Homo sapiens: one gene and its partner. The protein of the gene in region 1 purifies or fractionates together with the protein of each later gene. This does not show direct contact. Each region holds a gene or a part of one and is shown in the gene's direction. Other genes may lie near its edges.

Region 1 (5,540 bases):
TTTTGTTTTGTTAAATTTTTAAAACTTTTTTATTTTTTTATTTTTTATTTTTTATATTTTTTAAAACTTTTTTAGAGACAGAATTTCCTCTGTCGCCCAGGGTGGAGTGCAGTGGTATGATCATCATAGCTCACTGTAACCTCGCACTCCTGGGTTCAAGTGATCCTCCTGCTTTAGCCTCCCAAGTAGCTGGGACTTACAGGTGGATGCTGCCATCCCCAGCTAATGTTTTCTTTTTTTTTCTTTGGTGTAGAGACAAGGTCTCACTATGTTGCTGGGGCTGGTCTTGAACTCCTGTCCTCAAGCAGTCCTCCTGCCTCAGCCTCCCAAGTAGCTGGGATTACAGGCATGATGTTTTGTTTTTAAGTGTTATTAAATGCAAAGGATAAAAAAAAAATAGGTGTTAAAGAGGCCACAATTCTCAGGGAATCAGATGCCTAAGAGTAGAAGGGGTGGGGTAGGAAGTTGACTTAATTAATGAATTTTCTACAAATTCAGCTGTTTTTAAAAGGTTTCTCCTGCTTTTTAATGGGGCTGATCTTAGAATACTTGAACTGAGACTGCATAAGCAAACAAAGCTTAGGGGTTTGGTGGTTCAGTGCTTTCAGCTGAAAGAACATTTATCCCATGCAGTCACCTCATGGTCATGGGAATGCCTGGCACAGTTTCTTTAATCCCCCCTGAAAAGGATAAAATGAATTAATTTGTATTTCATCGCTGAAACTGATTTAGTAAACATCTTTCAAAATGGTAAGGGGAAGGAGGGAAAGTAATAAAAGGTGAGTTTGGATTCTGAAATTTCATTCTTCAGAGATCCTTGTGTAGAAGCTCAATTCCCTTTGACTCCCTCTCTAGAGAAGGCTGGTGTCCGTCTGTGAAACATGCAGTATATCTTTGGAATACCCATGCAGTGAATACAAACTCATTCTCAGAAAATAAAGGCACATTTGTAACTGCGCTTGAAACATATTTTTTTAACCCATGGCTATTAGAGTGTTGAAGCCCATCAGACAGATGTGTATATGCATTTTTATGTTTTAGGCAAGTTAGGATGTTGGCTTGTTAAAAGTAAGCATCTATGGGTTGGAATGGATGTTAACCATATACATAGTCCAGTTTAATATCTTAGAATGGATAGGATTTATTTATCTCGGCTCATCTTCAAGCATATGTTAGTAATAATGGACCTCCATCCCCTGCAAAAAAGGAAAAGCTATATTTGAAGTTTGCATTTTATGGAACGGGTCCATAGTAGTGATATCAGAAAGAAAAGGGGCAGAATCTCTTCTGTTGTCACGGCTAGGTTTGCTGTACAGGCTGACAGTCTAAAACCTCTAGAGGAGAGTGTTTGCAGAGAATCTTACCTTTTTCTTTCAAACCAGAAGCCTGTGTTGGTAACTTCAAGCCCTGATAATAATAGAAAACCTGGTGGGCTGGGGACTTACCCTTTTCTTTGCAAAGCTGGATAGAGGGAGGAGCTATTAAATAAAAATAAGGGGCTTATATTCTTTGCTTCCCCGCCATTCCTCCAGATTAGTGATGGCTTTTTAAGGAGTTATAGATATTTGAGAATCTGATTAAAGCAGTCAGACCTCTCTTCAGGAAAGTGTACCAGTGAAAAATGTACCATTGTACCAGAAAAATGTATCAGTACTGAGGATCCAAAGGAATCTGTGTGGGCTCTGAGAAAATGCTACAGAGGACAAGGACTGTTGTGCCTTTTGTTGTGAAGGTTGGAGAAACCAGCAGCACTTTAAATCTCCCCCTGTACTTAAAAGCACCTCGGAGATTCAGTAAGCCCTGGATCCACCCATCCATCCAGGACTCTGTCTCACAAAGAGACTTTGAGGCACATTGAATTGAAGGCACAGTCACTTGTAGAAGGTGGGGGTTAGAGACGGCAGTCATGCTTCCATTGTTTTAGCTTCTTGAAAGTCATCTCCTAAAAGACTGTGTGTTGATGATAATGCGGTGGTGGTGGTGGTGGTGGTGGTGGTGGTGGTGGTGGTGGTGGTGGTGGTGGTTGTGGTGGTGGTGGTGGTGGTGATGGTGGTGTCAGGCAAAACTAGGTTGGAATCCTAGTATCCTGTCGATCACTTTCTAGCCTTGTTTTAAAAAATATATATATAAATTGTGAAACATATGGAACTGAAAAGAGTATGAAATTAGAAACTATCTAGATGGGCCTGGCCTAGATTCAAATTCTGTCTTCGCTCTTTGCTAGCTATACTCGGGCAAATTATTTAATCTCTCTAAACCTCAGTTTCTTCATTTGAAAAGTGGGAATAACCAAGTCATCTTACAGGGTTATTGTGACAATTAGTGATATTGTATGTAAAATGGCTGGCACATAGTATTAATTGGTTATGATTATGATGAGAGAGATGGTCAGCTATGCTCTTTGGAGATGAGACACACAAAGTTGTAGTCTCTGTGTCACAAAGCTCTTATGAAAATTTCAGTTTCCTAATACATTTTGGCACACATTATTACTTCCTTGTGACCAGTATGTGCCAATGAGTGTTATAGCACCTGGCCCTGAACTAGGTCTCAGGGTCAGGATTTCCTTGCTCTCTTCCACTTCTCTTTTTCTCCATTTCGAAATGGCCAAGGAATATGATTTAAATTTAAGCATTTAACTAGGCAGGAATAAGTAACTTACCAAAGCTGCTGCTTATCTAAAATCATTGTTCAAAGTAACAGACATGAATTTAAAGGCTCACGGATATGCATTCTGGTATCTAGAGTTTATAGTAATTAGCTCCATCTTAAGCACACTCAAAGCTATAAAAGTTGAATAGTATTGGTGGTTTTGTTTCTATGTGTGATCTTAGAAAACGAAGCAAATGTCAAATATTAGCATTCAGGTCCTGCTCCATGATTTTTGTTTGTTTTTATACAGAAATTAAAGTAGCTTTTTTTCTCCCTATAAGCTCCCTCCTTGCTGCATGCCTTACTTTGTCTCCCACCCACACATCCTTTAGTAATGAAATCTTTTCTGCTTAGTATCAGCACATTTGGAAGAAAACATATAACAAAGTTTCTTTAGCTATAGGTAATAAAGAGGAGTCTAGGATTCAAACGTAAAGGTATTTGTGAATTGGCTCTTGCTTGTTTGCCTTGTAGCTATACATTCCAGAGTTTTCTTCACAGGAAGGAGGCCCACAGAAGGCTAATAATAGGTTATTCATGTACAGGCGATGTTTGCTCCAAGCCTTTTTTTTTAATTAAATAGATAGCATTTTTTACTTTTAAAATAAGCACTTAAGCTATACAGATTATAATATTAAGTAGACACTGATATAGATCACTATAATGTGAGGTGTACTTATTTCTTAATGTTTTACATTGATGTTTCTTCCTCTCCATTTTAGGACACTTGGTGGGGTTCCCACACAAGCTCCTCCACCTCTTGAAGCAACTTCATCATCACAAATTATCTGCCCAGATGGGGTCACTTCAGCAAACTTTTACCCTGAAACTTGGGTTTATATGCATCCATCTCAGGACTTCATCCAAGTCCCTGTTTCTGCAGAGGATAAAAGTTATCGGATCATTTACAATCTTTTTCATAAGACTGTGCCTGAGTTTAAATACAGAATTTTGCAGATATTGAGAGTCCAAAACCAGTTTCTTTGGGAGAAATATAAAAGGTGAGTCAGATGTATGAAAAGTTCAAGACGGCCGGGCGCAGTGGCTCAAGCCTGTAATCCCAGCACTTTGGGAGGCCGAGGCGGGCAGATTACGAGGTCAGGAGATCGAGACCATCCTAGCTAACACGGTGAAACCCCGTCTCTACTAAAAATAGAAAAAATTAGCTGGGCGTGGTGGCGGGCACCTGTAGTCCCAGCTACTCGGGAGGCTGAGGCAGGAGAATGGTGTGAACCTGGGAGGCGGAGCTTGCAGTGAGCCGAGATTGCGCCACTGCACTCCAGCCTGGGCGACAGAGCCAGACTCCGTCTCAAAAAAAAAAAAAAAAAAGTTCAAGAATCAAGAGAGCTTTATTGTAGCCAGTGTCAAATGAGGAACATAATAGTAAACATTTGCACAGAATTTATGTTCATATTTTCTGTGTATTGACTGACATATAATCCTCATAACAGACATAAGTAGGATTATTACAATTTATATCCTACAGAGAAGAAGAAACTGAGTCACAGAAAGCTTACTTTGCTGCAGGTCATGCGGCTATTATGATATGGTGCTGGAATTTGAACCCAGGCCGTCTGGCACCAGAGGCCTTGCTCTTAATCCCTTTACTGTGGTGCCTCTCAAGTCAACAAACTAATGAAGGACAAATGGAGGGAATACATTTAGATTTCAGGAATCTCAGAATCTAAGAGACCCTCAGATTGGAGGAATTAGGCAAGGAGGGCATCCTGAGGAAAAACATAGGAGAACTCTTAATAGATTTAAGATGAAAGAGAAAGCAAGTGAATGATTGGTGGAGAAAGAAGGAAAAGGCCTTTTCTACAGTGGAAAGATAAGTTTCAACTTTTAATAGGATCTTTGATGGCATTTTGCCCTTGATAACTCCTCATTAAAACCATAAAGAGAAGTTTATGACTACATCATGCCTGTTAAATTGACCTGTATTTCATCCTTCTGAATTCTCTGTCTGTTCTTTCCATTAGGAAAAAGGAATATATGAACAGGAAAATGTTTGGCCGTGACAGGATAATAAATGAGAGACATTTATTTCATGGAACATCCCAGGATGTGGTAGATGGAATCTGCAAACACAACTTTGACCCTCGAGTCTGTGGAAAGCATGCTACAATGTTTGGACAAGGCAGTTATTTTGCAAAGAAGGCAAGCTACTCTCATAACTTTTCTAAGAAGTCCTCCAAAGGAGTCCACTTCATGTTTCTGGCCAAAGTGCTGACGGGCAGATACACAATGGGCAGTCATGGCATGAGAAGGCCCCCGCCAGTCAATCCTGGCAGTGTCACCAGTGACCTTTATGACTCTTGTGTGGATAATTTCTTTGAGCCTCAGATTTTTGTCATTTTTAATGATGACCAGAGTTACCCTTATTTTGTTATCCAATATGAAGAAGTCAGTAACACTGTTTCCATTTGAAAAATCTTGGTACTGCTAAATTATTTGATATGAACTCAATCCAGCATTTGTAGCAGGTTTTGAATGGGTGGGACTGGGTGGGGAACAGCATTGGACATTAATAGGGCACTTTTCAGACCCATTTTTTAAAGTGCTAGAAAATGCTTTTTTTAAAAAAAAAATACAAGTTTTAAAATGACCACTTACTCTTTAATTATTTACTAATTGCTAGTGTACTCAGTGTGGAAAAGACTACAGATTACACACTCTTTTCATTCACACTTGTACATATAGACAGCAATGTTATTAGGAGCATTAAATTAAAAAACTGAACAGCCTAATTTAAATGTGGCTTGGGCCTGGTAGAAGTTTGACCAAATGGAATGGAGGCTGTGAGCAATGTGAGGATTCTATTTATTTATTTACGTTTGATAAAACTTACTGGAACTAGTACTACCATGCGTATTCCCTGTCCAAAG
Region 2 (3,537 bases), on another chromosome or scaffold:
GACAGATTGTTAACATTTTACCATATTTGCTTAACCATGCTCTATAGTACACATTTTTTGCTGACCACTTGGGAATAAGCTACAGATACCATGACCATTTTTGCACCCTGAATACTTCGCACCCTGATACAGGAGTGTGTATGTCTTAAGAACAAGAATGTTTTCTTGGAAAATTATATTTTTGTGTGTATAATTAATCATATTCAAGAAATTTAACATTGATTCAATCTAATGTCTAATGTGAAATTCATGTTTTAATTTTAACAATTGTAATGTCTTTCATAGCAATTTCCCCCTCCCCCCAAGGCAGAGGCAGGGATGGTACACGAGTTCTCTGTCCTCTGGGTGCTACATTAAGTCATGTGATGTCTGTTGTTGGTAACATTAACTTGGTTCCCTTGGTGTCCACCAAATTTCTCCATGAAGCTGCCATTTTATTTTTGGAAGTAGCTTCTTCATAGTTGTGGGGAAAGAGGATTTAGGTGAAATTATTAGGAAAAGGCTTATCAATCCTTGGACATTTTACTCAGATATTACCTACTGGCATGTGTAGTCTCCTTTAAAAAAAAAAAAATGTAGGCTGGGCACGGTGGCTCACACCTGTAATCCCAGCACTTTGGGAGGCCAAGGCGGGTGGATCAGTTGAGGTCAGGAGTTCAAGATCAGCCTGGCTAACATGGTGAAACCCCATCTCTACTAAAAATACAAAAATTAGCCAGGCATGGTGGCGGGCGCCTTTAATCCCAGCTACTTGGGAGGCTGAGGCATGAGAATTGCTTGAACCTGGGAGGCAGAAGTTGCAGTGAACTGAGATCCTGCCACTGCACTCTAGTCTGGGCAGCAGAACAAAACTGCCCCCCCCCCCCCCCCCCCCCCCAAAAAAGTATTTGTTCCATCTTAGCAATGTGTTACCTTTCTCTCTCAATGTGATTGACAGACCAGGTCTTTTTTTATAGTTAGGTGTATACTTCCTCTATAGTTTTAATTTTTCCATTTATCTCATACTGCTTCTCTTGAACTACATACTCTGTTGTATGGGCAGCCTTCAGCTCCATTGCTGTAAACAGTGGTGCAGAAATTTTAGAATTTTAATGAGCTTTTGTGAGAGTACTAGGGCAGCTATCAATGCTCATCTTAAGATGGAACTGGCCATTTTGAGAAACATATCTTTGCCTGTATCTATGTATGTTTATAAGCTAAAGTCTTAGATACAGATTGACTTGGTTAAATGTTACTTGCACTCATAATTTTGTTGGATACTGTTATTGCTGAACTTTTCTGGTATGGCAGCCTAATTTTCTGTCTTTTTCCCCTCCTTTGGCTTCTGAAATCCCTCTGATTATGTTGTCTATGTTGAGGCCTTCTCTTCAGCCTTTGGCCCTCTGTTCTGTCTTCCTCTCCCTCTGCAAGTTTTTTTTTTTTTTTTTTTTTTTTTTTTTTTTTTTTTTTTGAGGCGGAGTTTCGCTCTGTCGCCCAGGCTGGAGTGCAGTGGCGCGATCTCGACTCACTGCAAGCTCCGCCTCCCGGGTTCACGCCATTCTCCTGCCTCAGCCTCCCGTGTAGCTGGGACTACAGGTGCGCGCCACCATGCCCGGCTAATTTTTGTATTTATGGTAGAGACGGGGTTTCACCGTGTTAGCCAGGATGGTCTCGATCTCCTGACCTCGTGATCCGCCCGTCTCGGCCTCCCAAAGTGCTGGGATTACAGGCGTGAGCCACCGCGCCCGGCCCTCTGCAAGTTCTTAACTCTGCGTTTCTCCCTTCCCTTTAGAAGCCATCTCCTTTTCAGTCTCTAGTCCCACCCTATGTTCTAGCTCCCCAGCTACAGCTGCCTGCCCACCTTTTCCACTCAGTCTTCTACCATTCCAGATTTCTCTCTTGTCAATCCCCTTTATCACTGTATCTTCCTTGCTGTGGGGTAGGGTTCCACCTTTAAGTGGGGGCACTTAGGTCTTCTCTCTCCCTGGCATGAGTTTTCTGCACTCACTGGTCTGGTTGTTTACATGTGTTGACAGTAACTGCCGCCTTCTGGCCTTTTCTCCGTGCTGCTGCCTCTCTTCTGGAGCACAATTTTTTTTTTTTTTTTTTTAAGACAGAGTCTCACTCTGTCACCCAGGCTGGAGGCTGGAGTGCAGTGGCACAATCTTGGCTCACTGCAACCTCCACTTCCAGGGTTCAAGCGATTCTCATGCCTCAGCCTCTCAGGTAGCTGGGACTACAGGCGTGTGCCACCATGCAAGGCTAATTTTTGTATTTTTAGTAGAGAAGATGTTTCACTATGTTGGCCAGGCTGGTCTCAAACTCCTGACCTCAGGTGATCTACCGCTTTGGCCTCCCAAAGTGCTGGGATTACAAGTGTGAGCCACTGTGCCCGGCCTGGAGCACTCTTTCATGTCCTCTTTGCCTTTCCAAATACTTCCCAATCTTCAAAAACCAAATCAACCTTTTGTGTGAGGGCTTTTCAGCCTGATCCCCCTCTTCTGAGCATTTCCTTTGTTAAGATGCATGTAAGGCTGTGTTTTACTTCCCTGGGACATTGCTCATCGGCTTATTTTCTTAGTTTTCCTCATGCTTTTGGATTGTCTTGTGTGCTGGATTGGAAGGCCAGTCTAGGCCCCCCACCAGGCTGACTCACTTCTCTGCTTACAGTAGGGAATGAGAAAGGGTGGTATCATGATTTGAACTTTACCCAGTCCCACGTGTCATTTGACTTGAGCTGGAAATTTGCAGTGTTTTTTTGGGCTGCTGATGTGCACAGGAAGGAGTTACTGGCCCTGGACAGTATGTCAGGAAAGCTGTCCTGGAAGAAAGGAGGCCAGACACAGGCCACAGAGGGCTGGTGCAAGCTTGGAAATTGGGTGCCTAAGACCTTGCTTTTGTGTTGAAAGGTTTGTCCGATATGTGCCTCGATGCCCTGGGGAGACCCCAACTACCGCAGCGCCAACTTCAGAGAGCACATCCAGCGCCGGCACCGGTTTTCTTATGACACTTTTGTGGTAAGTCTGGAGCCTGGGCTCTGATCCCTCCCCTGGGGGAGTGGCACGGCTACTTCACTCTTCTCAAAAGGGGAAATGGGGATCCCCAGTGTTGAACTTTGTCGCTGTTGTGATGGGCTTCCAGTCTGTATACTGGATACAGTGATAAAGGGGATTGACAAGAGAGAAAAGAAGACTGAGTGGAAGAGGCGGGCAGGCAGCTGTAGCTGGGGAGCTAGATGGGCTTCCAGTCTGTATACTGTAGCTACTATACAGTTTCTATTCATGGGCCAGGCAGGTGGCCAGAGTGACATTTATTTACTTACATGAGATGGAGTCTTGCTCTGTCGCCCAGGCTGGAATGCAGTGGCGTGATCTCAGCTCACTGCAGCCTCCACCTCCCGGGTTCAAGTGATTCTCCTGCCTCAGCCTCCTGAGTAGCTGGGACTACAGGCGCATGCCACCATGCCCCATTACTTTTTGTACTTTCAGTAGAGACAGGCTTTCACTATGTTGGCCAGGCTGGTCTCGAACTCCTGACCTCGTGATCTGCCCACCTTGG

Evidence for each region.
Region 2: the proteins of TIPARP (region 1) and RNF114 purify together in Homo sapiens (affinity purification with mass spectrometry; 2 studies listed by BioGRID and IntAct, with this or other methods). This does not show direct contact.

What each region holds. Positions count from the first base shown.
Region 1 is NC_000003.12:156,700,050-156,705,589, forward strand, and holds part of TIPARP (protein mono-ADP-ribosyltransferase TIPARP), read left to right. Parts: intron 1-3,374; coding exon 3,375-3,653; intron 3,654-4,634; coding exon 4,635-5,082; 3' UTR 5,083-5,540. UniProt on the Homo sapiens protein: ADP-ribosyltransferase that mediates mono-ADP-ribosylation of glutamate, aspartate and cysteine residues on target proteins.
Region 2 is NC_000020.11:49,946,360-49,949,896, forward strand, and holds part of RNF114 (E3 ubiquitin-protein ligase RNF114), read left to right. Parts: intron 1-2,888; coding exon 2,889-2,996; intron 2,997-3,537. UniProt on the Homo sapiens protein: E3 ubiquitin-protein ligase that promotes the ubiquitination of various substrates. In turn, participates in the regulation of many biological processes including cell cycle, apoptosis, osteoclastogenesis as well as innate or adaptive immunity.